Regions from separate parts of the Homo sapiens genome. Here region 2 is linked to region 1. The links come from fine-mapping of genetic effects on gene expression. A gene starts in region 1. The other region holds a variant in brackets. All regions are shown on one strand. Distances are from middle to middle.

Region 1 (15,777 bases):
ATGAAAATTGAATTTAAACAAAAGTTGTGTATCTTCTTCTGGCTCACAGTTGTACAGTAACTGAGTTCAAATCCTGGGTTCATTCACTAGTTTAGTGACACGGATTTTGCATCCCTACTTATAAAATGGAAATGATACTGCCTAAATCACGGTTGTGCTGAGAATTAAGTATTACATGGGAATGTGTGTAAAGTGCTTAGCACATTGCCTGGGACATATACAGTAACTGCTTCCCACCATACAGATACTGAAAAGCCCAATCACTAATAACAATTTGTTATATTTACTTTACGTGGTGTTTTTTATGTGAGTTCGCTTATGAGTAATGAGATGCAAATTCGACTTGAAAGTTTTCCCACACACGGTACATTTAAAAGGTTCCGCTAGCATGTGGCTCTTCTGGTGGCATGCAAGTTCTGAGTCCAAAGCAAAACTTTCCTCGCATGTTTTGCACTTATGGGGCCTTTCCTCTGTATGAATGTTCTGATGGGAAATAAGCTCAGAGAAACAAGGAAAGGTCATGTCACAGTCAGGACACTGTAAGGGCTTGAATTTTGAGAATGAGAAGAAATTGTCCCCATCATCGCTGCAGCGTTCAGAGTCCTCGTCGTGGCTCTTCTCGGAAAGGGCAGGATATAAGGACTGCCTGAAGCTCTTCATGCACTTAGTGTGCTGGTACTGGGGGCCTGATACGAATGTTTCCTCAGGCAAAGCAAGATTTGGTTTCTCATTAAAATGTTTATCACAGTTAGTAGATTCGTAGGTGTTTTCAGCACTGTGGCTTTTCTGATGCTGTGCCAATCCTGGGAGCCACATAAAACCTCTACCACATATGCTACATGTATAGGGCTTCTCCTTTACGTGGCTATTCATGTGTCGGGATAGATGAGAGTGCTGGCGAAAGCTGGCACTGCACTTGGCACACTTATAAGGTTTCTCACCAGTATGGATTCTCCTGTGTGTCCTCAGGTTGGCTCTATGATTGAAGATCTTTCCACAGTCACCACATTTATGTTTTTTCTCTCCTGAATGAATTTTCTGATGCAAAACTAGGTATGAATGATCGCTGAAGTTTTGGTCACACTCAGGACATTTGTACACATTTTTGGCTCCTTCCCAGGGAGAATCAAGAATTTCAGAAAGTGTGTTGGTTCCTAAATATTCAGAGAGTTCTACTAATGGGGTGTGGTTTTCAATGGTAACTAAAAGGCTGATGACCCTTCTCTTGTAAGTGGGAGTTCCACTTAATATTTTCGCTTCAGGGTTTCCAACTCCATCCTCAGAGGATTTTTCTGGGTAAGGGACAAGGGGTGCAGCAATGGGGTACTTTTCTAAGGCAAGCTCGTCAAGTTCCATAGACTCTAGGCTTAACTGCTGATTAATCTCAGGCTTGCCTTCCTCTCCTGTTGATAAAAACAAAAGAAAGCAAAACATAGACAATATCTTCAAGGGATACTGGGGAAAAAGTAAGCTAAGGTAGTTACAAACAGGACCAGGAAACCTTAGAAGGGTTATTCTATAACCCAGACACTAACCACACAAAATCAGGACCAAGCAGACTCTCCTGGCCTCCCAGAAGATCCAGTTTTGGGTGAATATCCAAAGGTAAGGAGAGAATAGCTATAACTAAGTCAGAGTCCAGTGGGATAGGTACTAAGGACAATCTCAGTAGCAGCTATCTAGAGGTGAACTTTTCCATCTAATCTATTTAGGCCTCAAGAGCCTTTCATTTTTGAAGCTATCTCAAGTGACAGCAGAACAATTAACAATTGGAAAAAAGATTAGGATTCATATTTATCAACAAAGAGAGGGGTTGGGCAGTGTCTCACGTCTGTAATCTCAGCACTTTGGGAAGCTGAGGTGGGAGCATCACTTGAGGCTAGGAGTTTGAGACCAGTCTGGGCAACACAGTGAGACCCCATCTGTACAAAAAATAATTTTTAAAAATTAGCCAGGCATGGTGGCACATGCCTATAGTCCTAGATACTCAGGAGGCTGAGACAGGAGGATCACTTGAGCTCAGGAGTTTGAGATGTGCCATTGCACTCCAGCCTAGGTGACAGAGCCAGAACTTGTTTCTTAAAAAAAAAAAAAAAAGATGACAGCAAGAATGAGTGGGAAAGAAAATAATTTTTAAAAAGAGGCTGGGCACGGTGGCTCACACCTGTGATCCCAGCACTTTGGGAGGCCGAGGCGGGTGGATCACGAGATCAGGAGATCAAGACCATCCTGGCTAACACGGTGAAACCCCATCTCTACTAAAAAAAAATACAGAAAATTAGCTGGGCGTGGTGGCCTGCGCCTGTCGTCCCAGCTACTCGGGAGGCTGAGGCAGGAGAATGGCGTGAACCCAGGAGGCGGAGCTTGCAGTGAGCCGAGATCGCGCCACTGCACTCCAGCCTGGGCGACAGAGCAAGACTCTGTCTCAAAAAAAAATAATAATAATAATTAAAAAAGAAAAAAGAAAAAAAAGCAATCAAGTGAGCATTTTTCTTCCATAACAAAGAAACACACGGGTTATCAGAAATAGTTTTATTATCACCAGGAGAACTCTCCAAAATCTCTTTACTCCTCACTGAGGAAAGATCAAGGTAGAAGGCTGTGTGTACTGCATGAAAATAACAGCCAATCTACTTACAAGAATGGCTGACAAAACTAACATTCCTGTGTAATATTTTCCAAGTATTCTTCAGTTATAAAGCAAATATATCAATACAAAAGGAACTTTTCTTTCCAGAGAAACAAAGTTCTACAGTTTTCCCAACTCACTGACTAGAAAGGGCTGCAGTATAGTTCATGGGAATCCAAACAGTACCAAGTGGTTTTGCTGATTTGAGGGGACTGAGTTCAGAGATCAGGGATGCCAAGGCAGCTAGAATTTGAAAGCAAAACAGCAAAGAGGCAGCTGTTCAGAAAGAGAGCTCAGGTCATCTACATGGGGTCCCCTTAAGACTTTCCTGAGGCTAGGTACAGTGGCTCAAACCTGTAATCCCAGCACATTGGGAGGCTGAGGTGGGAGAATTGCTTGAGCCACGGAGCTCGAGACCAGCCTGGGCAACATGGCAAAGCCCCATCCCTACAAAAAAAAAACAACAAAAAAAGACAAGCATGGTAGTGCATGCCTGTAGTCCCAGCTACTTGGGAGGCTGAGGTGGGAGGACTGCTTGAGCCTGGGAGGTCAGGGCTGCAGTGAGCCGTGATTGTGCCACTGCACTCCAGCCTGGGTGACAGATCAAGATACTGTATCAAAAAAAAAATAACCCCACAACTTTGGCTGAGTAGTAATCTACAAGTGCATGAAGAAACTACCCAATGCCGTGGAAAGAACCACCTAAAAGGAATAACAGAGCAATAACCAGTTCATGTTGCCTCCAGCCAAAGTGGAAAGACATAAGACATTGAGCAGCAACGTCCACAGAAAAAAACTGCCTTAGCAGTAACTCAAATAAGTCCTAGCAGAAAGGTTGATCTGAACCTATCCTAACAAAGCAAAAAAAAAAAGCACACCTTGAAACAGTCAAACTGACTCCAAGTAACTTAACTGCCTCCCACAACAAAGTCCAAAATATTTTTAAAAATACAACGAAATCCCGGGTCCAACAACATAAAATTCTTAATCTAACATCCGACCAAAATTTACCCAGGAAGTAAAGAAAATATAGAAAATATAACCCATAACTAGAAGACAAATCAATCAATAGAAACAGACCCAGAAATGACATCAATGTTAAAACTAGCAAGAAAAAAAAGTTTAAATAACCATTATAAATATACTCCATACATTTACGCAGACAGAAGACAACATGAACATGATGAAGAGAGAAGTGGAAGAAACAAAATATGAGTTATTCAGAATAACTAGTTACTCTAGTTATTTTTTTCTGACTAGGATTGAGTATCTCAACTATTCCAAACTATTTAGAATAACTACTTAGAATAGATAGTTTAGATACTCAATCCTAGTCAGAAATAAAATCTAGTCAGGCACAGGAGTCCATCTGTGTATGGTTCCCCTTAGGTGAGTAAGGCATAGCACCCCTTAAGAGTAAATCAATCTCCAGTCTTTAGCAAATGATAGTGATCGATACTAATGGGATTTCCCAAGTAAAATTGTAAACTGCAACAAATGTTTGTGAAAGATTACCAAATACTGCCATCTCTTGTACTAAACCACAGGCACTGTACTAGACTGAATTTTTGTCTTTAAGAGATCATCTCGGCCGGGCTCAGTGGCTCATGCCTGTAATCCCAGCACTTTGGGAGGCCGAGGCGGGTGATCACAAGGTCAGGAGATTGAGACCATCCTGGCTAACACGGTGAAACCCTGTCTCTACTAAAAATACAAAAAATTAGCTGGGCATGGTGGCAGGCGGCTGTAGTCCCAGCTACTCGGGAGGCTGAGGCAGGAGAATGGCGTGAACCTGGGAGGCGCGGTTTGCAGTGAGCAGAGATCGTGCCACTGCACTCCAGCCTGGGCAACAGAGCGAGAGTCTGTCTCAAAAAAAAAAAATCATCTCATATTTTAAAACTTTTTCTCTCACACAATTATCACCTCCACATAAATTACTGAGGGACAGGTCCCACTCCACCATACCAACATCTGGATAAAGCATGAAGTTCTCCTCCTAGAATTGACAAAAGTTCCAGATGCAGGAAAAACAATTGCCTTACCCATCAAAGCCGCATCCTCCAAAGACTCTTTTGTACCATCTTTGCTGAGGGACCTCTGGGCAGGGTGCAGAGTCACGCACTCCTCTTGAGAAAAATACACAGCCAGATCCTCAAAGAGTATTGGTCCCTGAAACACAAGAGCCTGTGTCAGCACAAGAGGGTGGAGGGTCAGCCCCTCACTTAACCTAGGAAGGATGAAAAGAGCTAGAAACATCAGATGCACGGGATAAAAGGCTCGGTGTAAAAGGTTCTTGAGCGCAGAAGTAGGGCAAATGGGTTCTAAGGGGTGGGGTGAGGGTTGGGAAGAAGAGAGTAAACATGGACATACATTTTTAGGCAGTGGTACAAGGACGGTGGACTGTGAGAATTATTGTCTATCTTGAAAGAGAAAAGATGAGGGAATGGCTCTTAGGGAGGCAACCATTAAGTGAGGATGCTCTAAGAAAAGGAGAGGTTTGGGGCCGGGTGTGGTGGCTCATGCCTGTAATCCCAACACTTTGGGAGTCTGAGGGGGATGCAGATGACTTGAGGTCAGGTGTTCGAGACCAGCCTGGCCAATATGGTGAAACCCTGTCTCTACTAAAATTACAAAAATTAAGGCTGGGCACAGTGGCTCACGCCTGTAACCCCAGCACTTTGGAAGGTGGAGGCGAGTGGATCACCTGAGGTCAGGAGTTCAAGACCAGCCTGACCAACATGGTGAAATTCTGTCTGCACTAAATACAAAAAATTAGCCAGGTGTGGTGGCGCATGCCTATAATCCCAGCTACTTGGGAGGCTGAGGCAGGAGAATCATTTGAACCTAGGAGAAAGAGGTTGCAGTAAGCCGAGATTGCACCATTGCACTCCAGCCTGGGCAACAAGAGTAAAACTCCGTCTCAAGCAGAGCTTGCAGTGAGCTGAGATCGTGCCACTGCACTCCAGCCTGGGCAACAGAGCGACACTCCATCTCAAAAACAAAAACAAAAACAAAACAACAACAAAAAAAACTCTGTCTCAAAAAATAAATTAAAATAAAATGAAATTAGCCAGATGTGGTGGCATGCGCCTGTAGTCCCAGCTACTTGGGAGGCTGGGCCAGGAGAATCGTTTGAATCCAGGAGGCAGAGATTGCAGTGAGCCGAGATCGCGCCATTGCACTCCAGCCTAGGCGTCGCAGCGAGACTGTCTCAAAAAAAAAAAAAAAAAGAAAAGAAAAGGAGAAAGTTGGGCAGCCCAGGAAGAATCATAAAGAGATAAAGGTTACAGGATTCTCCCAACATCCTTCCCTTTGCTATTTCCTCTCGTCCCCATGACACTCATTGCTAAGCTCACTCCAGCACTTCATCCAGGCCTACCCCACCTTCTCTAACGGTGTGATAAATTAATCACTTGGGATTTATTATTACTCAACGAGTGTGGAGTCTAGAAATGTGCTTAATTTAAAAATTCATTCAAATTGGAGAAGTACCAAATCTGTAATTTTGGGAACCATTCCAGAAAGTCACTTTTAATCCTAGCACTTTGGGGAGCCGAGGTGGGAGGATAGCTGAAGGCCAGGAGTTCCTTGGCAAAGCAGCAAGACTCCATCTCCATAAAGAAGTTTTAGGCCGGGCGCAGTGGCTCACACCTGTAATTCCAGCACTTTGGGAGACCGAGGCGGGCGGATCACAAGGTCAGGAGATTGAGACCATCCTGGCTAACACGGTGAAACCCCGTCTCTACTAAAAATACAAAAAATTAGCAGGGCGTGGCGGCAGGCGCCTGTAGTCCCATCTACTCGGGAGGCTGAGGCAGGAGAATGGCATGAACCCGGGAGGCGGAGCTTGCAGTGAGCCGAGATCGCGCCACTGCACTCCAGCCTGGGCGACAGAGCGAGACTCTGTATCAAAAAAAAAAAAAAAAGAACTTTTAAAAGTAGCCAGACACTGTGGTATGCGCGCCTCTCAGATACTCGAGAGGCTGAGGCGTAAGGATTCCCTGAGTTCCAGACGGAGCTATGATATCAGCACTGCACTCCAGCCAGACAAGCAACACTCCAGCGACAAGGCCAGACCCTATCTCCAAACAAAACAAAACAAACAGATAAGACATTGAGAAACTCTCTCAGAGATTCCTCCACAGGTCCCTGCTCCCAGTTGGTAGTTCTGAAAGAAGGAAGTTGGTAAACCATTATGTGTGTGGTCTTGGAACGAAGAACACTTGGTCAAAGGGCTATTTGGGGCTCAGGAGCACTCCTACCACAACAGGCATGCCCAACTCTCCTCCAAAGGAGGGGGTCAGGCAGAGACCGAAAGCAGCAATAAACTTGGACGAAAAAGGTACCTCGACTCACCTGGGCCTCGGGCGTCGGGGGCATGGACGCCATTTGGCGGGTGGGGAATGCCTTCTTCAAGACGCCACAGGGACTTCGTGACAAAGCTGCGGGGGGAGAGAACAGTTCTTAAAGGGACCAATTCCGCTGCCAAGTTCCTCCACTACCCCTAGCCTCCCTCGATTCCCTCCGAACCCCCCCTTAAAAACCTACGCCGACTGCTCCTCCTCTTGGCCCGGCCTCGAAAGGGGCCCACTTACCGCTCCGCGGTTAATAACAGGCCTCGCGCTCCCTGACAGGAGCTGCAGAAAGCGACGCCCGACCGAGACGCGACGAAGAACGCCACGGCCACTGCAAAACTCCCACGCTCTCATGCTCCTTTACGCAGGAGCTGCGGGAAAAGCCGCCGGAAGCGACCCGCCCTCAGCCCTCTCCGCCATCCTGCCCTTTGATTGGTCGAAGTTCTCCCGAAGGGGAAGTCCTTCTTTTGTGTTGACCAATTGAACACCTTAACCGAGGACCTGTAGCCACTGGGCAGCTGCGAGAGGTAGTTTTCCTCCTTTTCTCTAAGCAACCATTTCCGCTTCCGCTGGCGGGGTCTCCTCCGTGAGCTCCGGGCCTGTTTGCCTGCTGAAGTAGAGTCTTAGGGTGACCCCAGGGGGACGTAATGTTTCCGAGAAGAAGGACAGAAAGAAGACTGGGAGACACCGGAACTCGAAAGAAAATCGGTAACAAAATGTGGGTTCGGCCAACAGTGCCCTGTAGGCCTGAAATTTCGGTCTGGCCAGAGCAAGGTGATTGAGAGGGCGGGGGTTCGGGCCTAGCCTGGGCTTGAGCTGTCCTTTGTGTCTTGAGCGGATGGTGGGGCCGTGGAACATGAAGGAGTATCTTTGTGTACGTTCACAACGTTCACATCGGTGTAGGCCAGGTTGCTGGACTCTGACTCAAAGTGTTATAGAGGCATTACGTATTGTACCCGCAGCTGCAGCCTAAGCGAGCTGCTTCAGCTTCCTAGTCACAGGATCCCACGCGAGAATAGAGCCATAGGTTAGCGTCGCAGGACGTTGTTCGCCCCCGGATACCTCACATGCAGCCTACCCTAGAGCCAGTCATTTCCTATTGTGTGCTGGGGGAGGAGGGAGTGCCCTGGTGTAGGCATTTGGAATTGGAAAATTGAGCTCCTCCCCAAGCTCTGCCACTGATTGGTTGGTAATCTTGGCCAGTTTACAACTTTGCTTTCCTCAGCTGCAAACAGCTCAGAGTGCCTCTCTGGGCTAACTCAGAGGGTAATTTCAAAGATTATAAGATAATGTAAGTGAAAGAAATTGCCAGTTTATAAAGGTGTTTGGGGAAAAAAAAAGACGAAAATGATAGGTACCTTGATAGAAAAGCCTGAAAAGTCTCAACATATTTCCTTATTCCAGTGCCAGGCACATTCCTGTATCTAAAAGCTTAATGAATGGCTGCATGGTTATTAAAACAATATTAGGAGATTTGACAACTTAGGTAATGTGATTTTGTGGAATATCTGATAGGATAGTTTCAGCTACAAGTAACAGAAAACCCACCGAAAGGATGTTCAAAGAGCAGTTACAGGTTGGTTAATTCGGTGGCCCAGTGACAACATCAAGGTCCCAGTGCTTCTCTGCCACCCTAAGCATGTTGGTAACGTTGACAATAGAATCCAGGTAAAATATACAGACATGTATTGTGTCATGTACCCATCCTAAACTAGTTATTACCAAGAATAAATAATTGTTTGGGGCCCATCATGCTTCAGCCCCTGTCACTAGGGGAAGGACCTAGCCTCCCTTGATAATCTACCTGCACAAAATTAGGGCTTTGTTACAAATGAAAAAAAGAGATGTGGAAAATAAGTTAGATAAGAAACTAGCAGTATCTGCCACAAATGATATCTCTTGACAGCTAACTAAGAGCTAGACCTTGTGGGGATGGATCACAAAAGAGGTAGCTGTGAAGTCCCAGTAAAGGTGCTTCCAGGACAGGTGGAAGAATGGTAAGAACAAACTTGCCTACAGGCTAGACCAGTCCAAAGCATATATGTTGAAGAAGAGCTAATAGCCTGTATATGAAGGTGTAAGTAAAGGAGATGTTCATGGTTGAGTCACTGTGGTGTTCACGTAGTCATCTTTCCCTTCTTGGTTTGTGCTTATCTCTTTTTTTTTTTTTTTTTTGAGACAGTCTCACTCTGTAGCCAGACTGGGGTGCAGTGGCACAATCCTGACTCACTGCAACCTCTGCCTCCGGGGTTCAAATGATTCTCCTGCCTAAGCCTCCTGAGTAGCTGGGACTACAGGTGCCCGCCACCACGTCCGGCTAATTTTTTTTTTTTGTATTTTTAGTAGAGATGGGGTTTCATCATGTTGGCCAGGATGGTCTCGATCTCGTGACCTCATGATCCACCTCGGCTTCCCAAAGTGCTGGGATTACAAGCGTGAGCCACCGCGCCCCGCCTATTTAATGCTATTCTTACATCAGCACTGTCTCATTGTGGTCTGAGATTCTCCTTATCTGGATTTGTGGCTCTTTCACCAAGAACAAGAGACTCCCGTGGCTCTCTTCTTTAAATCCTGTTGCCATAATTACAAAGAAATAAACACAGTTTCCAATGCTTTGAAATGAAGCATGTGGTATTAACTCAGTGGATTACCAGAGAGAGAGGGATATACCTGAAATGGGAGAGGAAAAAATCTTCCCTAGACTATCTTTCCTAAGAGCCATCAAAACTATAAACAAGTGGACAAAGAAGGAGGAAGCTTGAAAGCTTTATCTTCCTGAAAATAAAGAGATGACATACAAAGTCCAAGATAGACCAAGATTGAAAAATTAGACCACATTATATCCCTAACTCAATTTTGTAAAAAATCACAAATGCTTGACTGTATACCCACTATATGTTCAAGTAACATGTTTTAATCATCAAAATTTAAAAATCCTTCCACGACAATCTTTTGCAAGTTTTTCCATTTCTGTCTTTAACATGGTACCAGTAATAACAACTACAACCTGTTTGTATTGAAATTATTTCTATAGCCCAGCATCTGCTTTCTCTGAAAATTATCTTTTTAAAAATAGTAAAACTAACATCATTACAAAAGTAGTATATGTGCATTTCAGAAAGTTAGGAAAGGCTGGGTGCGGTGGCTCACGCCTGTAATCCCAGCATTTTGTGAGGCTGAGGTGGGCAGATCACAAGGTCAGGAGATCGAGACCATCCTGGCTAACACGATGAAACCCCATCTATACTAAAAATACAAAAAATTAGCCAGGCGTGGTAGCGGGCACCTGTAGTCCCAGCTACTCGGGAGGCTGAGGCAGGAGAATGGCGTGAACCTGGGAGGCGGAGCTTGCAGTGAGCCGAGATCACACCACTGCACTCCAGCCTGGGTGACAGAGTGAGACTCTGTCTGAAAAAAAAAAAAAAAAGAAAATACAGGGGAAAAAATGGCAACACATTCCTGTCACCCAGAGATCACCACTATTTACTCTTTATTATTTGTTTTTTTTTTTTTGAGACAGTCTCACTGTTGCCCAGGCTGGAGAGCAGTGGTGCGATCTCTGCTCACTGCAACTTCCGCCTCCTGGGTTCAAGTGATTCTTGTGCCTCAGCTACCAGAGTAGATGAGATGATGGGCAGATGCCACCACAACCATTTAATTTTTGTATTTTTAGTAGAGATGCAGTTTTGCCATGTTGGCCAGGCTGGTCTCAAACTCCTGGCCTCAAGTGATCCGCCCATGTCAGCCTCCCAAAGTGCTGGGATTACAGGTATGAGCCACCGCACCTGGCCTGCTCACTGCAACCTCCATCTCCCAGGTTCAAGCAATTCTTCTGGCTCAGCCTCCCGAGTAGCTGGGACTATAGGTGCGTACCACCACACCTGGCGAATTTTTGTATTTTTAGTAGAGGACGGGTTTTCCCCATATTGGCCAGGCTGGTCTCGAACTCCTGACCTTGTGATCTGCCCGCCTTGGCCTCCCAAAGTGCTGGGATTACAGGCGTGAGCCCCTGCCCCCGGCCCCTATTCTTAAGTATATATCTTTTCCCTAGTGATTTTTATGATGATGCAGCTGTATATTGAAACGGAAAGATACTCATTTTTGGGAGTAAAATTGGTTATGAAACAAAAACAATAACAAAGTTGCTTTTGAAGACTATGCGTTAAAATGGTAGTGGTAGTTATATTTTTAATTTTTATGGGTACATAGTAGGTGTATATATTTATGTGGTACATGAAATATTTTGATGCAGGCATGCAATGTGTAATCACTTCAAGGTAAATGGGGTATCTTCCCTGGCGATGTTTAACATGATTTCCAGAATGAATTGCTCACTACGTTTGGTGTGTTTTCCATTCCCAGATGGTACTGCCTTTTAAGGTCTATTACTTAAACATAAGTATGGCTCTGGTTCTTACCGCCTTTACCGTATCCTTCATGGGAAGTTGATACTGATCGGAAACTGACACAGAGCCTTCTCACCTACACTAAGGGGGCCTAGGTAAGCAAGATTATCTTTCTCCCAACTTCAGCAAGAGGTTTTCTTACTGGTGTTCAGAATGCTTGATTGAGCAGTTAGAAAACTGTTGCTACCTAGTCTCCAGTCTTATAAGGGGACAATGGCTGCAAGTCATGCCTGCAAGAACAAGAGGCTCACACAGTTTTGAAATTAGCACAACTTCTAGCTGGATAGGAGTCTTTTTAGTTTCATTTAGCCTTGAGTTGAAACTAATAGGAGTCTTTTAATTAGAAAAAAGCTCAGGGCTCTAAACGTACCTTCAACATGTTAATTCTGTTACCAAAAACTGGCTTGGTCTGTGTTAACTCCCAACAGAATTCTTTTTCAGTCACTGAGGCAGAGGTGCTTCCAGAGAAAGATTCTTGACCTACTCATACTGAATAATTATCGTTACTAGAAGCTGCAACCAAAGACTCCTGGAGGGTAGTAAGAGGTACAGAGAATGCAGGTTAGATACAGTGAGGACAGAGAAGAAAGGATGGGTTGGAGGCTGGGCGTGGTCACTCACACCTATAATTCCAGCTACTTTAGAGGCTGAAGCAAGAGAATCACTTGAGTCCAGGAGTTCGAGGCTGCAGTGAGCTAGCATTGTGCCACTGCACTCCAGCTTGGATGACAGAGCAAGACCTTGTCTCAAAAAAAAAAAAAAAAAAAACATGGGTTGCTTTGTAGTTTAGAGAACTACATGTTTAGATAGTTAATTTTTCCCCAAAAGGGCCCATCAGATTGATACTCTGAGATCCAGGGTTTGTCTGACACTCATTAGCCTATGAGTTGTAGAGATGGGATGGCCAGGAGTGAAGTGATGGCCTTGTGTCTTTCTCCCCTGCAGCATACAGAAAGGCTGTACCTGGAGGAAGGAAGTGCGGAGCCAGCCTGAGTTGGGAGAAGAGCTCCAGAGAGTGAGTCAAAGCGCTCTGTGTCCTGCTATTAATGATGCCCTCATAGTCAGAGGAAGCCTACTTAAGTGAAATCCATTTTTGACCTGTCAAGTATTAAATATTCTCTTAATTTTTAGTACTGAATGATAGAAGGCGCCTAGTGAAACAAATGCTTTCACTTTTTTGCTAGGAGGGTAAATGAGTATATTCTTACGTTAGGTACACAGGGATACAGTACAAGTATGCCAGCCTCTTTAAACTATAAAGAAGTAAACAAGATTTGGTTTAAGCATCAGTCTCTTGTGAGTCTGATGGGTAAGCCCAGTCTCAGGGCACACTGACAATGTTAGTGGAGAACGAGACTCTCCCAGTGTGCTGCCCTGACCCTCTGAGATTGGTCTGTGTAGCCACGTGGTGGTCATCCTGTGCCACCTCTGGTTTGGTTCTAATCAAAGGAAGCAGTATCATCTGTGGTGATCCGTCTTACACACTTGCATCATTTTATACCAAAGGAGAATTTCTTTTGTTAAAAATTTATTTTTCATTATCTACTCATAAAGAAGGAGCCAAAGGGCTGGGCGCAGTGGCTCACGCCTGTAATCCCAGCACTTTAGGAGGTGAGGCGGGTAGATCTCTGGAGGTCAGGAGTTCGAGACCAGCCTGCCCAACATGTTGAAACCCCATCTCTACTAAAAAATACAAAAATGTAGCCGGGTGTGCTGGGCGTGGTGGCTCACGTCTGTAATCCCAGCACTTTGGGAGGCCAAGGCAGGTGGATCATGAGGTCAGGAGATCGAGACCATCCTGGCTAACACGGTGAAACCCCATCTTTACTAAAAATACAAAAAATTAGCTGGGCGTGGTGGTGGGCACCTGTAGTCCCAGCTACTTGGGAGGCTGAGGCAGGAGAATGGTGTGAACCTGGGAGGTGACAGTTGCAGTGAGCCGAGATCACACCACTGTACTCCAGACTGGGCGACAGAGCAAGACTCTGTCTCAGAAAAAAAAAGAAAAATTTAGCCAGGCATGGTGGCGCCCAACTGTAGTCCCAGCTACTCGGGAGGCTAAGGAAGAAGAATTGCTTGAACTCAGGAAATGGAGGTTGCAGTGAGCTGAGATCGCACCACTGCACTCCAGCCTGGGTGACAGAGCGAGACCCCATCTGATATGGTTTGGCTGTGTCCCCACCCAAATCTCATCTGCAATTCCCATATATTATGGGAGGGACCCAGTAGGAGGTAATTGAATCGTGGGGCAGGTCTTTCCCATGCTGTTCTCATGATAGTGAATAAGTCTCACGAGATCTAATGGTTTTTAAAAAGGGGAGTTTCCCTGCACAAGCCCTCTTTTGTCTGCCACCATGTGAGACATGCCTTTTACCTTCCACCGTAATTGTGAGGCCTCCCCAGCCACGTGGAACTGTAAGTCCATTAAACCTCTTTTTTTTGTAAATTGCGCAGTCTCAGGTATGTCTTTATCAGCAGTGTGAAAACAGACTAATACATCGTCTCAAAAAAAGAGAAAAGAAGAAGAAGGAACTAAAGAAGAATTTCTTTGGAAGCAAAATATTTGGAAGCAAAATATTTGGCTCCTGACTGAAAGGGTTTTGATCCATGCATACATTAATAAACCCTTCAGAACCATGAGTTGGGATAATTCACTGTCCCTTGTGCTAGTCTCATGGAGCTTTTCTGCTCTTCTGGGAGTGCTCCTGGGGTGGTCTGGAGGCCTCTCAGGCAGAGCAGAGGCTGGTCAGCAAGCCACAGGGCTTGCCATGAAGTGGTTTGTTCATGATTTGTTTCTGGGACCCTGGGAAAAATGTTCTCAGGGTCTGCCTAGGAAGGCTGGTTTTGGAAGCTTGTGGATTTCTTTCTGGGTGAGTCAGGAAAGTTGTGCTCCTGCTGGGCGCAGTGGCTCATGCCTGTAATCCCAGCACTTTGGGAGGCTGAGGCAGGCGGATCACAAGGTCAGGAGATCGAGACCATCCTGGCTAACATGGTGAAACCCCATCTCTACTAAAAATACAAAAAATTAGCCGAGCGTGGTGGTGGGCACCTGTGGTCCCAGCTACTCGGGAGGCTGAGGCAGGAGAATGGTGTGAACCCGGGAGGCGGAGTTTGCAGTGAGCCGAGATCGTGCCACTGCACTCCAGCCTGGGCGACAGAGTGAGACTCCGTCTCAAAAAAAAAAAAAAAAAAAAAAAAAGAAAGTTGTGATCCAAGGGAAAGCATACAGGTTTTAATGATGAACTAGTTTGTTCCTTTGTCTCCTGGCTTTCATTCTTCATGGCATGTGCTCAGGGCAGCCAGTGGAGAGAGGCATCATTCTGCATGGTATAGAAGCCTTGGGTGGGTGTTTCATCATCTGTAAAATGAGGACAACAATACTGAACTTTCAAGGCCATTGTAAATTAGAATGTACAGTACAAGCATTGTAAGTTAGAAGTCAATTAGAACATGCAGGAGGGATTATAACTCAGTGTTTAGCGTATAGCAGACACTTAGTAAATAATGCATTTACTCTGTTCCATTCTAGAAGCTCCATTGTTGTTTGTACAACAAACACCTCTGTTGCAGTGCTTATCAGATTGTCTTGTAATCACGTAACTCCTCAAAGGCAGGATGTGTGTAATAACACATTTCCTTGGTCACCATTTGTACCCAGAATGGGGAAGGAAGAAATGAAAAGAATCCAGTATCTAAGCCCAGCCTCCATTTCACTTGCACGCCTTTTATTTATGAAAATATAGTACTTGTCCATGTAAATAATATCTCTGAATGGATACCAGGAAAATGGTAAGATGAGTTAGCTGGAGAACTTGGGTACTGAGTTGGAGGGAGGGTAACTTATTTTTCACCAATGTATCCTTTTGTTTTGCTTTAAAATAATTTACCACAGGCATGCATTACTTCTAAAAATAAAAATGTTTACTGTCAGAAAACTCCCCCAAGTTAAACCAAAACCAAAATATGTTAGATACATCTGTAACACTCATTATAAAAGATGACATATAAATGCCTCAAAAATAGAAAAGGTGATCAAACTTACTGAGAAATGTGCATTAAAACAATGAGACCTTTTTCAGTTAGATTGCAGAAAGGTAAAGAATAATACCTGGCCAGGTGTGGTGGCTCACACCTGTAATCCTAACACTTTGGGAGGCCAAGGTGGGTGGATCACCTAAGCTCAGGAGTTGGAGACCAGCCTGGGCAACATGACAAAACCTCGTCTCTACAAAAAATGCAAAAACTAGTGAGGCTTGGTGGTAGGCGCCTGTACTCCCAGCTACTCGGGAGGCTAAGGCAGCGGAATCACTTGAGCCCAGGAGGCAGAAATTGCAGTGAGCTGAGACCACACGACTGCATTCCAGCCTGGGGGACAGAGCAAGACCCT
Region 2 (15,777 bases), 27 kb before region 1:
AGAGTTTCCAAGTAGTTAGATGGTGCTTTTACAAAAAGAAAAGAAAATTACATTTGAGGGATCTTTTTTGTATCAAAGCACCTTTTTTTTTTCCTTTTTATTTTTTGAGACAGGGTCTCGCTATGTTGCCCAGGCTGGTCTCGAACTCCTGGGCTCAAGCAATGCTCCTGCCTTGGCATCCCAAAGTGCTGGGATTGCAAGTGTGAACCACCGTGCCTGTTCTCAAAGCACCTTTGATTGAGAAAAAAAAAATCTACACAGTTGCTGCAACCCCAGCCTAACACATAAGGAAAAGCTACAGTGAGAAGCAAGTAGTGGACAAAGAGTACTAAGGAGATATAAAAGGGAATTCTTCCCACTCTCCTTTCTCACTTAGCCCATTAGCTTTAAGAATAACAAAATGCAATGGGGGTACAGTGGCTCACACATGTAATCCTAGCACTTTGAGAGGCTGAGGCAGGGTGATCGAGCCCAGGAGTTTGAGACCAGCCTGGGCAATGTAGCTAAATCCTGTCTCTACAAAAAATACAAAAATTAGCCAGGCATGATGGTGCATGCCTATAATCCCAGCTAGCTACTCTTGGAGGCTGAGGCAAAAGTATTGTTTGAGCCCAGGAGTTAGAGGCTGCAGTGAGCTATGATTGCACCACTCCACTCTAGCCTGGATGACAGAGTGAGACTCTGTCTCAGGAAAAAAAAAAAATAGCAAAAGGATTGGGGTAATGAAAATATTCTAAGACTGGATTACAGTGATGGTTGCACAACTCAGTAAATTTACTAAAAATAATTGAAATGGGCTAATTTTATGATATGTAAATTGTACCTCAACAGCGTATTTTTAAGTGACAAAATATATTTATATAAAATGAGCCCTGGAAATAAGCCTGAGCGATCATCTAATGCCACCTCCTCGTTTTCTCAAAGCGGAAATTAAAATGCAAATCAGTATACAATTCCTAGCTCATTGCTCAGTTTAGAGAAAACTTTTGGCAGATTAGTGCATTCCTGATGCAGAAAATAAGAAGCAAGTAGCATTTTTTTTTTTTGAGACAGGGTCTCACTCTGTTGCCCAGGCTAGAGTGCACTGGCGTGATCATGCCTCACTATAGCTTCGATCTTCTGGGCTCAAGCAATCCTCCCTCCTCAGCCTCCCGAGCAGTTGGGACTACAGGAATGCACCACCATGCCTGGCTAATTTTTCTATTTTTTTGTAGAGACAGAGTCTCACTGTGTTGCCCAGTCTATCCTCGAACTCCTGGGCTCAAGCCATCCTCTCACTTTAGACTCCCAAAGTGCTGGGATTACAGATGTACGCTCAGCAAGGTAGCATTCTTCACAAAACATCAGTATCATCAAGTAACTACCAGTCACCTCAGGGCTGTGGGCTGAGCTCTTCTGTACCCCCCAAGGAATCTCTTGTCCCTTCTAACTGCCGAGGGACATATGCACACCTATGAGTCCTCTTTGGGGCCTTTGCACACAATTGTTTCCTTTGCCTTTATTTCCTGATGCTCCCCACTCCCTCCTGCCTCCTCCCTCTCACAAGAGTTTCCTTCTCTCAAAGCCTTCCCTGAGGAGCCCTAGGCAGACTTCTGTGAAAATTGGGGTCCAGCCTCTCTGCTAGACCCCATACACCAGGGGTGCTCAAACTGGGAGCCCCCCAGGGGTTGTCGGACAAAGTCCAAAGACACTTTTGGTTGTTAGGACTGGGGAAGGGAGGCTTGTTGCTGGCCTCTAGTGGGTTCTACTGAACCGCCTGCAGTGCCGGGACAGCCAGCCCCCACAGCAATGACCTGGCTCAAAAAATCAGTATCACCAAGGCTGGGAAACTACCATGCACTATAACAGCTCTTTCAAAACAAGAACATTGTTTTTCCATAACTTTAGCTTCTGGACTTTGTCAATAACCAGCCAAGAGAAACAGATGTTCAGTATGTGAACAGTTGAGAATCCCCACTGTACCCACAGGGCCCATGTCTGCCTGAGTTCAGAGATCCTGGTGACAATCTGTTGAATGCACAGGTGAGCTTCTGTCTTTTGGGCAGAGGCTTATTGAAGGCCCAGTGGCCTTCCTTACAGCTTTTGTGGTCCTTTAGGTACTTTAGGCCCTGATCCCATTCCCATCTGTTATGTTAGATCATGAAGAATTTAGCTTCTGTATCCGAGCTGCCCCATACCTGGCTCCATCCTGATACCTCTCCCTGGTCAAGGCCTCTTTCTTCCTCATTGTGTTTCCACCTCACCCTACTGAAACCAGGCTGATTTCACTGTTGTCCCTTAATAACCTCCAAGTCATAGTCACATCTGTATTAGGTACTTTGTGGTGTGGTAACAGATGACCCACCAGCTTAATGGTTTAAAACAACACAAACTGGGGCCGGGCGTGGTGGCTCACACCTGTAATCCCAGCACTTTGGGAGGCCAAGGTTGTGAAAAGTTCACCTGAGGTCAGAAGTTCAAGATCAGCCTGGCCAATATGGTGAAAGCCTGTCTCTACTAAAAATACAAAAATTAACCGGATGTGGTGGTGCACGCCTATAATCCCAGCTACTCGGGAGGCTGAGGCAGAAGAATCACTTGAACATGGGAGGCAGAGGCTGCAGTGGGCCGAGATTGTGCCACTGCACTCCAGCCTGGGCAGCAAGAGTGAAACTTGGACTCAAAAAACAAAAACAAACAAAAAAACACAAAAAGCAAAAAAACCGCCGGGCACGGTGGCTCACGCCTGTAATCCCAGCACTTTGGGAGGCCGAGGTGGGTGGATCACGAGGTCAGAAGATCGAGACCATCCTGGCTAACACAGTGAAACCCCGTCTCTACTAAAAATACAAAAAAAATTAGCTGGGCGTGGTGGCAGGCACCTGTAGTCCCAGCTACTCAGGAGGCTGAGGCAGGAGAGTGGCGTGAACCCAGGAGGTGGAGCTTGCAGTGAGCCGAGTTTGCACCACTGCACTCCAGAGCCTGGGCTACAGAGCAAGACTCCGTCTCAAAAAAAAAAAAAAAAAAAAAAAAAAAAAACCCACAACCTTATCGTTCTAGAGGTCAGAAATCTGAAATTGATTTCACTCAGCCAAAATCAAGCTGTCGGCAAGGCTGGTTCCTCTGAAGGCTCTGAGGGGTGAATCTCTTGCCTTGACTTTTTCAGCTTCTAACAGCCACCCACATCCTTTGGCCTCCACCCTCAAAGTGCATCACTCCAATCTCATTCCACCGCATTCTCCTCTGACTATGACCTTCCTGCTTGCCTTGTATAAGGACCGTTATGATGTTGGGCCCACCGGCATAATCCAGAATAATCTCCCTATCTCAAGATCCTTAACTTAATAACATCTGCAAAGCCCCTTTTGCCATATAAGGTAAACTTAATGGGTTCCAAGTATTAGGATGTGGACACATTTGGGGTGCCATGACTCAACCCACCGCACATATCCATCTTGAATCAAGTTAGTCAAAGAGCATCTCTCCTAAAAGAGAAGGACCATAGATTTCTACTTAATTATAAGGGTTGGGGTCAGGCGCAGTGGCTCACACCTGCAATCCCAGGACTTTGGGAGGCCGAGGCAGGCGGATCATTTGAGGCCAGGAGTTCAAAACCAGCCTGGCCAACATGGTGAAATCCTGTCTGTACCAAAAAAAAAAAAAAAAAAAAGAATTAGCCGCGTGTGGTGGTGTGCGCCTGTAGTCCCAGCTACTCACGAGGCTGAGGCATGAGAATCTCTTGAACCCGGGAGGCGAGGCTGAAGGAAGGTAGAGGTTGCAGTGAGCTGAGATCGCACCATTGCACTCCAGCCTGGGCAACAGACCATCCCCAAGCATAGCCTTCCTTTGGTATAAGGCTCAACTCCAGGCCAAGAGGACCAGGAAGGGTCCAATGGCTACAAGAACCCAAGGTCCTGTACTCAGATGTAAGTTTCCTCTCAGCCCCCGTACCCATGCATGGTCTGCCAGAGGACCTCAGCTGCTCCAATAGATTGTGATTCTCCGTATCCACCAGTCTGTCTCTACAAATTTTGGGGTGGCTGTTTGCCCTGTGACCTCACTTCTCTTACAGAAGAATTGTTGGGTTTTTCGGGTTGTTCAGCTTTTTATTTGTCATTAGAATGGAGTGACAACTTTCAAGCTCCTTATATTTGCAACCAGAGACTGGAAGTCACAAGAGTGAAACACCGTCTCAAAAAAAAGAAAACAGCAGTGAGACAGTGACTCCCTGACCTCACTGGCTAGATGAATTCCTCTTAAACCTTCTCAAAGCAAAACATGGCTCTACTTGGCTGCAGTTGCCCTCTCAATGCAGATCGCAACGAAACCCTCTCAATGCAGATCTCTGCCTTCCCGCCTCAACACTGCACCCGGGAGCCCTCCTCCAAGGGTCAGTGCCCGATAGGTTTGAGGGCAAGCCCCCGCCAGGGTGAAGCCGCCTCCTCCTCTGGGCCTGGGACGTGCTGGGAGGGAGGGAACGCGGTCCCCCGGGGAGTCACATGCCCCCATTCCCGGGGTCACCCAGGGACAACGGGCAGGAATAGACAGGTAAGGACCCTGCAGCTGAGCGAGCCCTGTGGCCGGATGTTCCAGGTAGGCTTTTCCGGAAATCGCCACCGGAGGATAGAACGCTCCTAGGGTGAGGGGCGGGGCCTCGACAGGAAATACCTGAAAGAGTCCCCTCTGAGTGGGCTGCTTGGCGCCCAGCCCGAGGAATTCTCACCTTCCATTGCCTGGCACAGCTGTCAGGGTGAAGAGGAGGCCGGGCAGCCACGGAGCCCTCTGGGAATTGTGGTTTTCGTGGGCTCCACGTACTGCTGAGCTGTTGCTTGCCTGAGACTGTTGAACCTCAAAGGGTGTCCTGGGGTTCATTCATTAAGCTTGTTCACGCAAATGACAAATATTTATTGACTGTCCACAACACGCCAGGCACCAATAGGGGCTGGAGGCAATATGGTGAACCCGGACGATGCTCATGGTCTCTTAGAAAGCCCAGTCTCCAGGCCGGGCGCGGTGGTTCACGCCTGTAATCCCAGTACTTTGGGAGGCTGAGGTGGGCGGATCACCTGAGGTCAAGAGTTCGAGACCAGCCTGGCCTACATGGTGAAACCTCGTCTCTAACAAAAATATAAAAAAAAAAAAAAAAAAAAAAAAAAAAAAATTAGCTGGGCGTGGTGGCGTGCGCTTATAGTCCCAGCTACTCAGGGAGGCTGAGGCAGGAGAATTGCTTGAACCCAGGAGGCGGAAGTTGCAGTGAGCTAAGATCACACCACGGCACTCCAGCCTGGGTGACAGAGGGAGACTGTATCTCGGGGGAAAAAAAAAAGAAAAAAGAAAAAAGCCTAGTCTCCAGCAAGGAACACATCTGAATCAAATAATTACACAAAGGCAAAACTGCAACCACACAGCTCCTAAAAGAAATGTTAAAACAGAAATGGCACAATAACAAGTGACTGAGGAAGGATCTAATTTATAAAGATAGAAAGGTTTTTGTTTTGTTTCGTTTTGTTTTTTTGTTATGTTTTGTGTTTTGTTTTTGAGATGGAGTTTCGTTATTGTTGCCCAGGCTGGAGCGCAATGGCGCGATCTCAGCTCACCGCAACTGCCGCCTCCTGGGTTCAAGCAATTCTCCTGCCTCAGCCTCCCGAGTAGCTGGGATTACACACAACCGGCCAATTTTGTATTTTTAGTAGAGACAGGGTTTCTCCATGTTGGTTAGGCTGGTCTCAAATGGGTGATCTACCCGCCTTGGCCTCCCAAGGTGCAGGGATTACAGGCGTGAGCCACTACGCCCAGCCAAAGGTAGGAAGGTCTTTATGCCACCCCCAAACATTCTCTTGCCAGGGCGATCACTTGATGACGACAGCGATTCCTCACAGAGATACAACTGACAGCACATCTGCTTTGACTAGCATATTCGAGATAGACCCTATGATTATCTTCCTGGCATTTGAGGAGACTGAGATTCAATAATGTTTCTGGAGTTTGTACAGCTCATAGGAAGTTGAGAGATGTAACAACACACCTCCAGTGCACCTTCCATCCTGTCTCCTACTGCCTGCCCAACATACCCTACAACCTGGTCCTATATTTTCTGATGTGTGAAATGTGATGATAATGGTGAAATAATCCAGGAAAAGTGCTTAGCATAGGAGGGCTGGCATAGGACCCGCACTTGAATGGTGTTAGCCACTTTTATAACTATTCTAATTACCTCTCTGATTCTCTACTCTGATTTAACTATTATTTTTAACCCAAGCACCCATCCTCTCTTCTCCTTCTTCTCTTTTTTGAGGTAGGGTCTCACTCTGTTGCCCAGGCTGGAGTACAGTGGTACAATCATGGTTCACTGTAGCCCTGAACTCCTGGACTCAAGTGATCCTTCCTTCACACTTAATCCCTGTGATTTTGGTAGAACTGATACCAACTCCAGGACAGCACATGAGAATCCAACCTGAACAGTCTACTCCATCTTCCTGGCCACAGCGTGTACAACACTTAAGATGTACAACATGATATTCTGATATACATATACATAGTGAAATGATTAATATAGTCAAGCAAATTAACATATCCATCTCCTCACACAGTTACCTTAAATTTTTTTCCTCTAGTAAGAATACCTGAAATGTACTCTTATCAAATTTCCAGTACTATATCATTAAGTATAATCATCATATTGTACATCAGCTTTCTAGACTTAGTCATCCTATATAACTGCAACTTTATACCCTCTCACCTACATTTCCCCATTTCCTCCCCCGCCCCCGCCCCCACCACCATTCTACTCTGTTTTTTGTTG[G/T]TTTTTTTGGTGAGGATGCAGTCTCGCTCTGTTGCCCAGGCTGGAGTGCAGTGGTGCGATCTCAGTTCACTGCAACCTCCACCTCCCAGGTTCAAGCAAATCTCCTGCCTCAGCCTCCCAAGTAGCTGGGATTACAGGCATGCTGCCACCATGCCCGGCTAATTTTTGTATTTTTAGTAGAGATGGAGTTTCACCATGTTGCCCAGGCTGGTCTCGAACTCCTGACCTGAGGTGATCTGCCTGCTTCGACCTCCCAAAGTGCTGGGGTTACAGGCATGAGCTACCGCACCCACCCTACTCTGCTTTTATGTATTTGACTTTTTTAGATTTTGTATATAAGTGGGATCATGTAGTATTTTTTCTTTCTATGTCTAGCTTACTTCAGTTAGCACAAAGTCCAACAGGTTCATTCATGTTGTTGAAAATGGTAGAATCTTTTTTTTTTTTTTTTTTTTTTGAGACAGAGTCTTGCTCTGTCACCCAGGCTGGAGTGTAGTGGTGCAATCATAGCTCACTGCAGTCACTTGACCTCCCGGAATCAAGTCGTCCTCCCGCCTCAGCCTCCCAAGTAGCTAGGACTACAGGCGTGTGCCATCACACGTGGCTTATTTTGTAAAACATTTTTTTCTGTAGACACGGGGTCTCACTATGTTACCCAGGCTGGTCTCAAACTCCTGGGCTCAAGCAGTCCACCCACCTTGGCCTCCCAAAGTGCTGGGATTACAGGGGTAAGCCACTGCACCTGGCAGATAGATCTCCTTTTTAAGGCTGAATAATGTTCCGCTCTGTGTGTGTGTGTGTGTGTGTGTGTGTGTGTGTATCCATTTATCTACCAGTGGACACTTAGGTTGTTTTCAAGTCTTGGCTACTGTGAATAACGTACCTTAGTTGTATACAGTATCCTCACAGATATTGCAGTTTTGATTCCAGACCCCTACAATAAAGTGAATGTCCCAATAAAATGAGCCACACAAATGTTTTGATTTCCTGGTGAATATAAAACCTATGTTTACACTATACTGTAGTCTATTAAGTGTGGAAAAGCATTACATCAGATAAACAAAATGCTGATAAGTGTGGTGGCTGCAGAGGGTTGGGGTGGCAGGGACAATTTCTTAAAATAACAATGAAGTTTTTCAAATCAGTTGACTCTTCCTTTCACAAAAGATTTCTCCATAGCATGTGATACAGGGTGATAGCATTTTGTCCACAGTAGAACTTTCAAAATCTTCTCAAATCCTGCTGCTCCTTCATTAACTAAGTTTATGTAATATTCTAAATCCTATTGTCATTTCAACAACATTCACAGCATCTTTACCAAGAGTAGATTCCATCTCAAAAAAACACTTTTGGGCTGTGCAAGTGGCTCATGTCTGTAATCCCAGCAATCTGGGAGACCAAGGTGGGAGGACTGCTCTCTGAGCCCAGGAGTTAACACAGGGAAGACCCCAACTCTACAAAACAATTAAAAAATTAGCTGGGCATGGTGGTGCATGCCTGTAGTCCCAGCTACTTGGGAGCCTGAGGTGGGAGGATCACTTGAGCCTAGGAGGTTGAGGCTGCAGTGAGTTGTGATTGTGCCATTTGTACTTCAGCCAGAGTGACAGAGCAAGACCCTGTCTCAAAAAACAAAATGGTTGGGTGTCATGGCTCATACCTGTAATCCTAGCAATTTGGGAGGCTGAGGCACCCAGATCACTTGAGGTCAGGAGTTCCAGACAAGCCTGGCCAACATGGCAAAACCCATCTCCACAAAAATAGAAAAATTAGCTGGGTGTGGTGGCGTGCTCCTGTACTCCCAGCTACTCAGGAGGCTGAGGCAGGAGAATCGCTTGAATCCAGGAGTTGGAGGTTGCAGTGAGCTGAGATCACGCCACTGCACTCCAGCCTGGGAAACACAGTGAGACTGTCTCAAAAAAAACAAAAACAAAAGCAAAAACAAAACAAAACCAAACACTTATGGTTGGGAGCAGTGTCTCATGCCTGTAATCCCAGCACTTTGGGAGGCTGAGGTGGGAGGATCACTTGAGCCCAGGAGTTCAAGACCAGCCTGGGCAACATATCAAGTCCCCATCGCTACAGAGAAAAACATTTTTTTTTGAGACAGAGTCTTGCTGTGTCACCAGGCTGGAGTTCAGTGGTGCAACCTTGGCTCACGGCAACCTCCACCTCCCAGGCTCAAGCAATTCTCCTGCCTCGGCCTCCTGAGTAGCTGGGACTACAGGCACATGCCACCACGCCCGGCAAATTTTTTGTATTTTTAGTAAAGACAGGGTTTTACCGTGTTAGCCAGGATGGTCTTGATCTCCTTACCTTGTGATCTGCCTGCCTTGGCCTCCCAAAGTGTTGGTATTACAGGCGTGAGCCACCACACCCAGCCTACAGAAAAATTTAAAAAATTGGACAAGTGTGGTGGCACATGCTGTAGTCTCAGCTGCTTGGGAGGCCAAGGCAGGAGGATTACTTGAGCCCAGGAGCTAGGCTGCAATGAATTATGATTGTACCACTGCAGTCTAGTCTGGGGGAGTGAGAGCCCATCTCAAAAAAATAAAATGAAATAAAGAGAAGAATGAAATTACTCTTTGATCCATGGGCTGCAGAATAAATGTTGTGTTAGCAGGCATGAAAACATTAACTTCCTTGTATATCTCCATCAGAGCTCTTGGTTGTCCAGGTGCATTGTAATAAACTGTAATATTTGGAAAGGAATATTTTTTTTTCTGAGCAGTAGGTCTCAACAATGGGCTTAAAATATTCAGCAAACCATGCTGTAAACACATAGGTTGTCATCCAGTCTTTGTTGTTCAACTGATAGAGCACAGGCAGAATAAACATAATTCTTAAGGGCTTCAGGATTTTTCAGAATGGTAAATGAGAACTGGCTTCACCAACGGCATTCACCCCAACAAAAGAGTCAGCCTGCCCTTTAAGGCTTTGAAGCCAGGCATTGACTTCTCCTCTCTAGCTACAAAAGTCTTAGATGGCATCTTTCCCCAATAGCAGGCTGTTTTGTCTACATTGAAAATCTGTTCTTATTGTAGCCACTTTCATCAATGATCTTAGCTAGATCTTCTGGATAACATGCTGCAGTTTCTCCATCAGCACTTGAAGCTTCACCTTGCACTTTTATATTATGGAGATGGCTTTTCTCCTTAAACCTCATGAACCAACTTTTGTTACTTCCCAACATTTCTTCTGCACCTTCTTCACCTCTCTCAGCCTTCACAGAACTGAAGAGAGTTTGGGCCTTGCTCTGGATTAGGCTTTAGTTTAAGGGAATGTTGTGGCTGGTTTGATCTTCTATCCACACCACTCAAACTTGCCCCATATCAGCAAAAAGACTGTTTCACTTTTTTATCATTCATGTGTTCACTGGAGTAGCACTTTAAATTTCCTTCAAGAACTTTTCCTTTGAATTCACAATTTGGTTAAACATTTGGCACAAGAAACCTAGCTTTTGGCCTGTCTCAGGTTTTGACATGCCTTTCTCACTAAGCTTAATCATTTCTACCTTTTGATTTAAAGTGAGAGATGGGCCAAGGGGTGGTTCATGCCTGTAATCTCAGCACTTTGGGAGGCTGGGGTGGGTGGATCACAAGGTCAAGAGTTGGAGACCAACCTGGCCAACATGGTGAAACCCCATCTCTACTAATAATACAAAAATTAGCCAGGAGTGGTGGTGCACACCTGTAGTCCTAGCTACTCAGGAGGCTGAGGCAGGAGAATCGCTTGAACCTGGAAGGCAGAGGATGTAGTGAGCCAAGATCACGACACTGCACTCCAGCCTGGGCGACAGAGCGAGACTCCATCTCCAAAAATAAATAAATAAAGTGAGAGATGTGTGACTCTTCCTTTCACTTGAACACTTAGAGGTCATCGTAGAGTTATTAAGTGGTCTAATGTCAATATTTTTGTGTCTCAGGGAAAAGGGAGGTCCAAGGAGAGGAAGAGCGATGGGAGTATGGCTGGTCAGTGGAACAGTATTGAAAGTTCCATGCAGGCTGGGTGCGGTGGCTCATGCCTGTAATCCCAGCACTTTGGGAGGCCAAGGTGGGCAGATCATGAGGTCAGGAGTTCGAGACCAGCCTGGACAATATGACAAAACCCCGTCTCTACTAAAAATACAAAAATTAGCCGGGCATGCTGGCATGCACCTGTAGTCCCAGCTACTCGGGAGGCTGAGGCAGGAGAATCGCTTGAACCGGGGAGGCAGAGGTTGCAGTGAACTGAGGTCCTACCACTGCACTGCAGCAGGGGTTGACAGAGTGAGACTCCATCAAAAAAAAGAAAGAAAGAAACACAGAAAGAGAGAGAGACGAAAGAAAGAGAGAGAGAGAGAGAGAGAGAAAGAAAGAAAGAAAGAAAGAAAGAAAGAAAGAAAGAAAGAAAGAAAGAAAGAAAGAAAGAAAGTTCCGTGCAGTATTTTCTGTTCCTGCCAGTAGTTTCTGGCCTCCAACTCCATCGATATTCCTGCAAAAGACATGATCTCATTCTTTTTTATGGCTGCACGGTATTTCATGGTGTATATGTACGTTTTCTTTATCCAGTCGTCACTGATGGGCCTTTGATTCCACGTCTTTGTTATTGTGAATGGTGCTGCTGTGAACATTCATGTGCATGTGTCTTTACAAGAGAATGATTTATATTTCTCTGGGTACATACCCAGTAATGGGATTGTGGGGTCAAACTGTAGTTCTCTTTTTAGCACTTTGAGGAATCGCCATACTGCTCTCCACAATGGTTGGGCGAAATTTATACTCCCACTAACAGTGTATAAGTGTTCCCTTTTCTCTGCAATCTTGCCAGCATATTTTTTGACTTTTTAATAACAGCCATTATCACTGGTGTGAGATGGTATCTCATTATGGTTTTGATTTGCATTTCTTTAATGATTAGTGATATTGAGCTTTTTTTCTTATGATTGTTGGTTGCATGTATGTCTTCTTTTGAAAATTGTCTGTTCATGTCCTTTGCCTACTTTTTAATGGGGTTGTTTTTCTCTTGCAAATTTGTTTACATTCCTTATAGATGCTGGATATTAGACCTTTGTCAGACGCATATTTGCAAATATTTTCTTCCATTCTGGAGGTTGTCTGTTTACTCTGTTGATAGTTTCTTTTGCTGTGCAGAGGAAGCTCTTTAGTTCAATTAGGTCCCATGTCTCAATTTTTGCTTTTGTTGCAATTGCTTTTGGAGTCTTTGTCATGAAATATTTTCGATCCTATGTCCAAGACGGTATTGCCTCGGTTGTCTTCTAGGGTTTTTATAGCTTTGGATTTTACATTTAAGTCTTTAATCCATCTTGAGTTGATTTTTGTATATGGTGTAAAGAAGGGGTCCAGTTTCAATCTTCTGCATATGGCTAGCCAATTATCCCAGCACCATTTATTGAACAGGGATTCCCTCCACCCACACACCATTGCTTGTTTTTGTCAGCTTTATTGAAGATCAGATGATCTTAGGAGTGTGGCCTTATTTCTGGTCTCTCTATTCTGTTCCATTGGCCTATGTGCCTGTTTTTGTACCAGTACCATGCTGTTTTGGTTACTGTAGCCCTGTAGGACAGTTTGAAGTCAGGTAATGTGATGCCTCCAACTTTGTTCTTTTTGCTTAGGATTGCCTTGGCTATTCAGGCTCTTTTTGGTTCCATGTGAATTTTTTTTTTTTTTTTTTGAGACAGAGTCTTGCTCTGTTGCCCAGGCTGGAGTGCAGTGGCGCAATCTTGGCTCACTGCAAGCTCCGCCTCTCGGGTTCATGCCATTCTTCTGCCTCAGCCTCATGTGTAGCTGGGACTACAGGCACCTGCCACCATGCCCAGCTAATTTTTTTTTTTTTGGTATTTTTAGTAAAGATGGGGTTTCGCCGTGTTAGCCAGGATGGTCTCAATCTCCTGATCTCGTAATCTGCCCATCTCGGCCTCCCAAAGTGCTGGGATTACAGGTGTGAGTCACCGCAGCCAGCTGGTTCCATGTGAATTTTAAAATAGTTTTTTATAATTCTATGAAGAATGTCATTGGTAGTTTGATAGGAATAGCATTGAATCTACAAATTGCTTTGGGCAATATGTCCATTTTAATGATATTTATTCTTCCAATCCATGAGCATGGGATGTTTTTCCATTTGTGTCATCTCTGATTTATTTCAGCTGTGTGCTGTAATTCTCATTGTAGGGATCTTTCACCTCCCTAGTTAGCTGTATTCCTAGGTATTTTATATACTTATTTATTTTTTTGAGATGGAATCTTGCTGGGATTACAGGTGTGAGCCTCCATGCACGGCTTGGTATTTTATTCTTTTTGTGGCAATTGTGAATGGGATTGCCTTCCTGATTTGACTCTCGGCTTGGCTGTTGTATGTGCATAGGAATGCCGGTAATTTTTGTACATTGACTTTGTATCCTGAAACTTTGCTGAAGTTGTTTATCAGCTGAAGGAACTTTTGGGCTGAGACAATGGGGTTTCCTAGATAGAAACATGTCATCTGCAAACAGGGAGAGTCTGACTTCTTTTCTTCCTATTTGGATGCCTTTTCTTTCTTTCTCTTGCCTCATTATTCTGGCCAGGACTTCCAATACTACGTTGAATAAAAGTGGTGAGAGAGGGCATTATTGACTTGTGCCAGTTTTCAAAGGGAATCCATCCTGCTTTTCCTCATTCAATGTGTTGGTTATTTTATGTTTTCTTTAGAAAAATGTCCATTCAAATTCATTGCCCATTTTTTAATTGGGCTATTTGGTTAATTTGTTTTTGAGTTGTGTGAGTTCCTCATATATTTGATGACTTTATCAGATATATTATTTGCAGGTATTTTCTTTTAATCCATAGTCTACCTTTTCATTTTGTTGACTGCCTCCTTTGCTTTGCAGCAGTTTTATAGCTTGATGTAATCCTACTTGTTTCTTGTGTCTTGCTTTGTTTTTTTTTTTGCCTCAGCTTTTGGTGTGATATTCAAAAAATCATTGCTGGCTGAGTGCAGTGGGTTACATTTGCAATCCCAGCACTTTGGGAGGCTGAGGCAGGCGGATCACCTGAGGTCAGGAGTTCGAGACCAGCCTGGCCAACATGGCAAAACCCCGTCTCTACTAAAAGTACAAAAATTAGCTGGGTATGGTGGTACACACTGTAATCCCAGCTACTTGGGAGGCTGAGGCAGGAGAATTGCTTGAGCCCGAGAGGTGGAGGTTGCAGTGAGTCAAGATAGCACCACTGCACTCCAGCTGGGTGAGACAGAGCAAGACTCTGTCTCAAAAACAAAAAACAAAAACAACAACAAACAAAACATAAAATAAAAAATAAGGAAAGATTTACTATTGATATTTTGTTACTTATTTCTGTTAGTCTTATAGTCCTTCTGTCCCTTTCTCTTGCTGTTTTCTTTTGTATTTCACTGTTTTTTTTTTTTTTTTTTTTTTGAGATGGAGTCTTGCTCTGTCACCCAGGCTGGAGGGCAATGGCACAATCTCGGCTCACTGCAACCTTCGCCTTCTGGTTCAAGCAATTCTCCTGCCTCAGCCTTCCAAGTAGCTGGGATTACAAGTGTGCAGCACCACACCTGGCTAATTTTTCTATTTTTAGTAGAGATGGGGTTTTGCCATGTTGGACAGGCTAGTCTCGAACTCCTGGCCTATGTTTTCATTATTTTCTCCTTTTCTTTAATTCTATAGGCATTTTCTTTGTAGTTACCAAGTGTTTACATAAAATCTCTTATAATAGTCTACTTTAAGCTGATAACAACTTAACTTCCCTTGCATGTCAGAACTTTGCTTTTATCTCTCTTCCCCTGGCTTATATGCTATTGATATCACCACTAACACCTATTTATATTGTACCAATTAACATAATATAGTTGTTTTACTACTTTTGTCTTTTAACTTTTATAAGAGAACTAAAATTGATTTACCCACTACTGTTATAGTAATACACTATTGGTTTTGACTATATATTTACCTTTGCCAATGAGTTTCATACTTCGTGTGCTCCTGTTACTGTTTTCCATACTTTTGTTTTAACCTTAAGAACTCTCTTTAGCATTTCTTATAAGGCAGGTCTAGTGGTGATAATCTCCCTCAGCTTTTGTTTGAGAAAGTCTTTATTTCCCTCTCATTTTTGAAGTATGGGTTTGTTGGATATAGCATTCTTGACTGGAAGTTTTTTTCTTTCAGCACTTTGTATCTATTGTCCCACTCCTTTCTGGCCCACAAGGTTTATGCTGGAAACTCTGTTAATAGTTTTATTAGGGGACCCTTGTACACAGAAGTTGCTTTTCCCTTGGCTGCTTTCAAAATTCTGTCTCTAACTTTTGACAATTTGATTGTAATGTATGTCAGTGTGGATCTCTTTGGATTCATCTTATTTTTTTTTTTTTTGAGACAGTCTCGCTCTGTCGCTCAGGCTGGAGTGCTATGGCATGATCTAGGCTCACTGCAACCTCCACCTCCCAGGTTCAAGCCATTCTCCTGCCTCAGCCTCCTGAGTAGCTGGCATTACAGGCACATGCCACCGCGCGCGGCTAATTTTTATATTTTTAGCAGAGACGGGGTTTCACCATGTTGGCCAGGCTGGTCTCGAACTCCTGACCTCAAGTGATCCACCTGCCTCGGCCTCCCAAAGGGCTGGGATTACAGGCATGAGCCACCGCACCTGGCAGGATTCATCTTATTTCATGTCCCTTGGACTTCTTGGGTCTTGATTTCTATTTCATTCCCCAGTTTTGGAAGGGTTTCAGCCACTGTTTGTTTGAATATGCTTTCTGTCCGTTTTGCTCTCTCTGCCTTCTGAAAATCCACTAATGCATACATTAGTCTACTCGATGGTGTCCCTTAAGTACCTTAATCTATCCTCACTCTTTCTTTTTTTCTCATTTTTGCCCCTCTGGTTGGATAATTTCCAATGGCTGGTCTTCAAATTCACTGACTCTTTTTTCTGCTTGACCTAGTCTGTGAGTGAAACCCTCTAGAGAATTTTTCAGATGAGTTATTATGTACTTCAGATCTATAA

The links. PIP is the estimated chance that this variant, and not a neighbour inherited with it, causes the effect.
Region 2: its variant is fine-mapped to the expression of ZNF597 in blood mononuclear cells (TOPMed, PIP 0.98).

Annotation. Positions count from the first base shown.
Region 1 is chr16:3,436,136-3,451,912 of GRCh38, forward strand. It overlaps ZNF597 (zinc finger protein 597), which reads right to left and starts at 7,369. Exons shown (of 4, transcript NM_152457.3): 1 at 7,225-7,369; 2 at 6,986-7,071; 3 at 4,672-4,798; 4 at 1-1,403. The coding sequence starts at 7,018. The coding sequence ends at 289. It overlaps NAA60 (N-alpha-acetyltransferase 60, NatF catalytic subunit), which reads left to right and starts at 7,545. Exons shown (of 8, transcript NM_001083601.3): 1 at 7,545-7,702; 2 at 12,336-12,405. RefSeq lists an enhancer at 7,629-7,778.
Region 2 is chr16:3,409,473-3,425,249 of GRCh38, forward strand. No RefSeq gene overlaps it. Among named protein-coding and RNA genes, the nearest start is that of ZNF174, 16 kb to the left of the region's middle. RefSeq lists a silencer at 10,831-11,113. The variant G/T (reference allele first, on the strand shown) is at 6,782.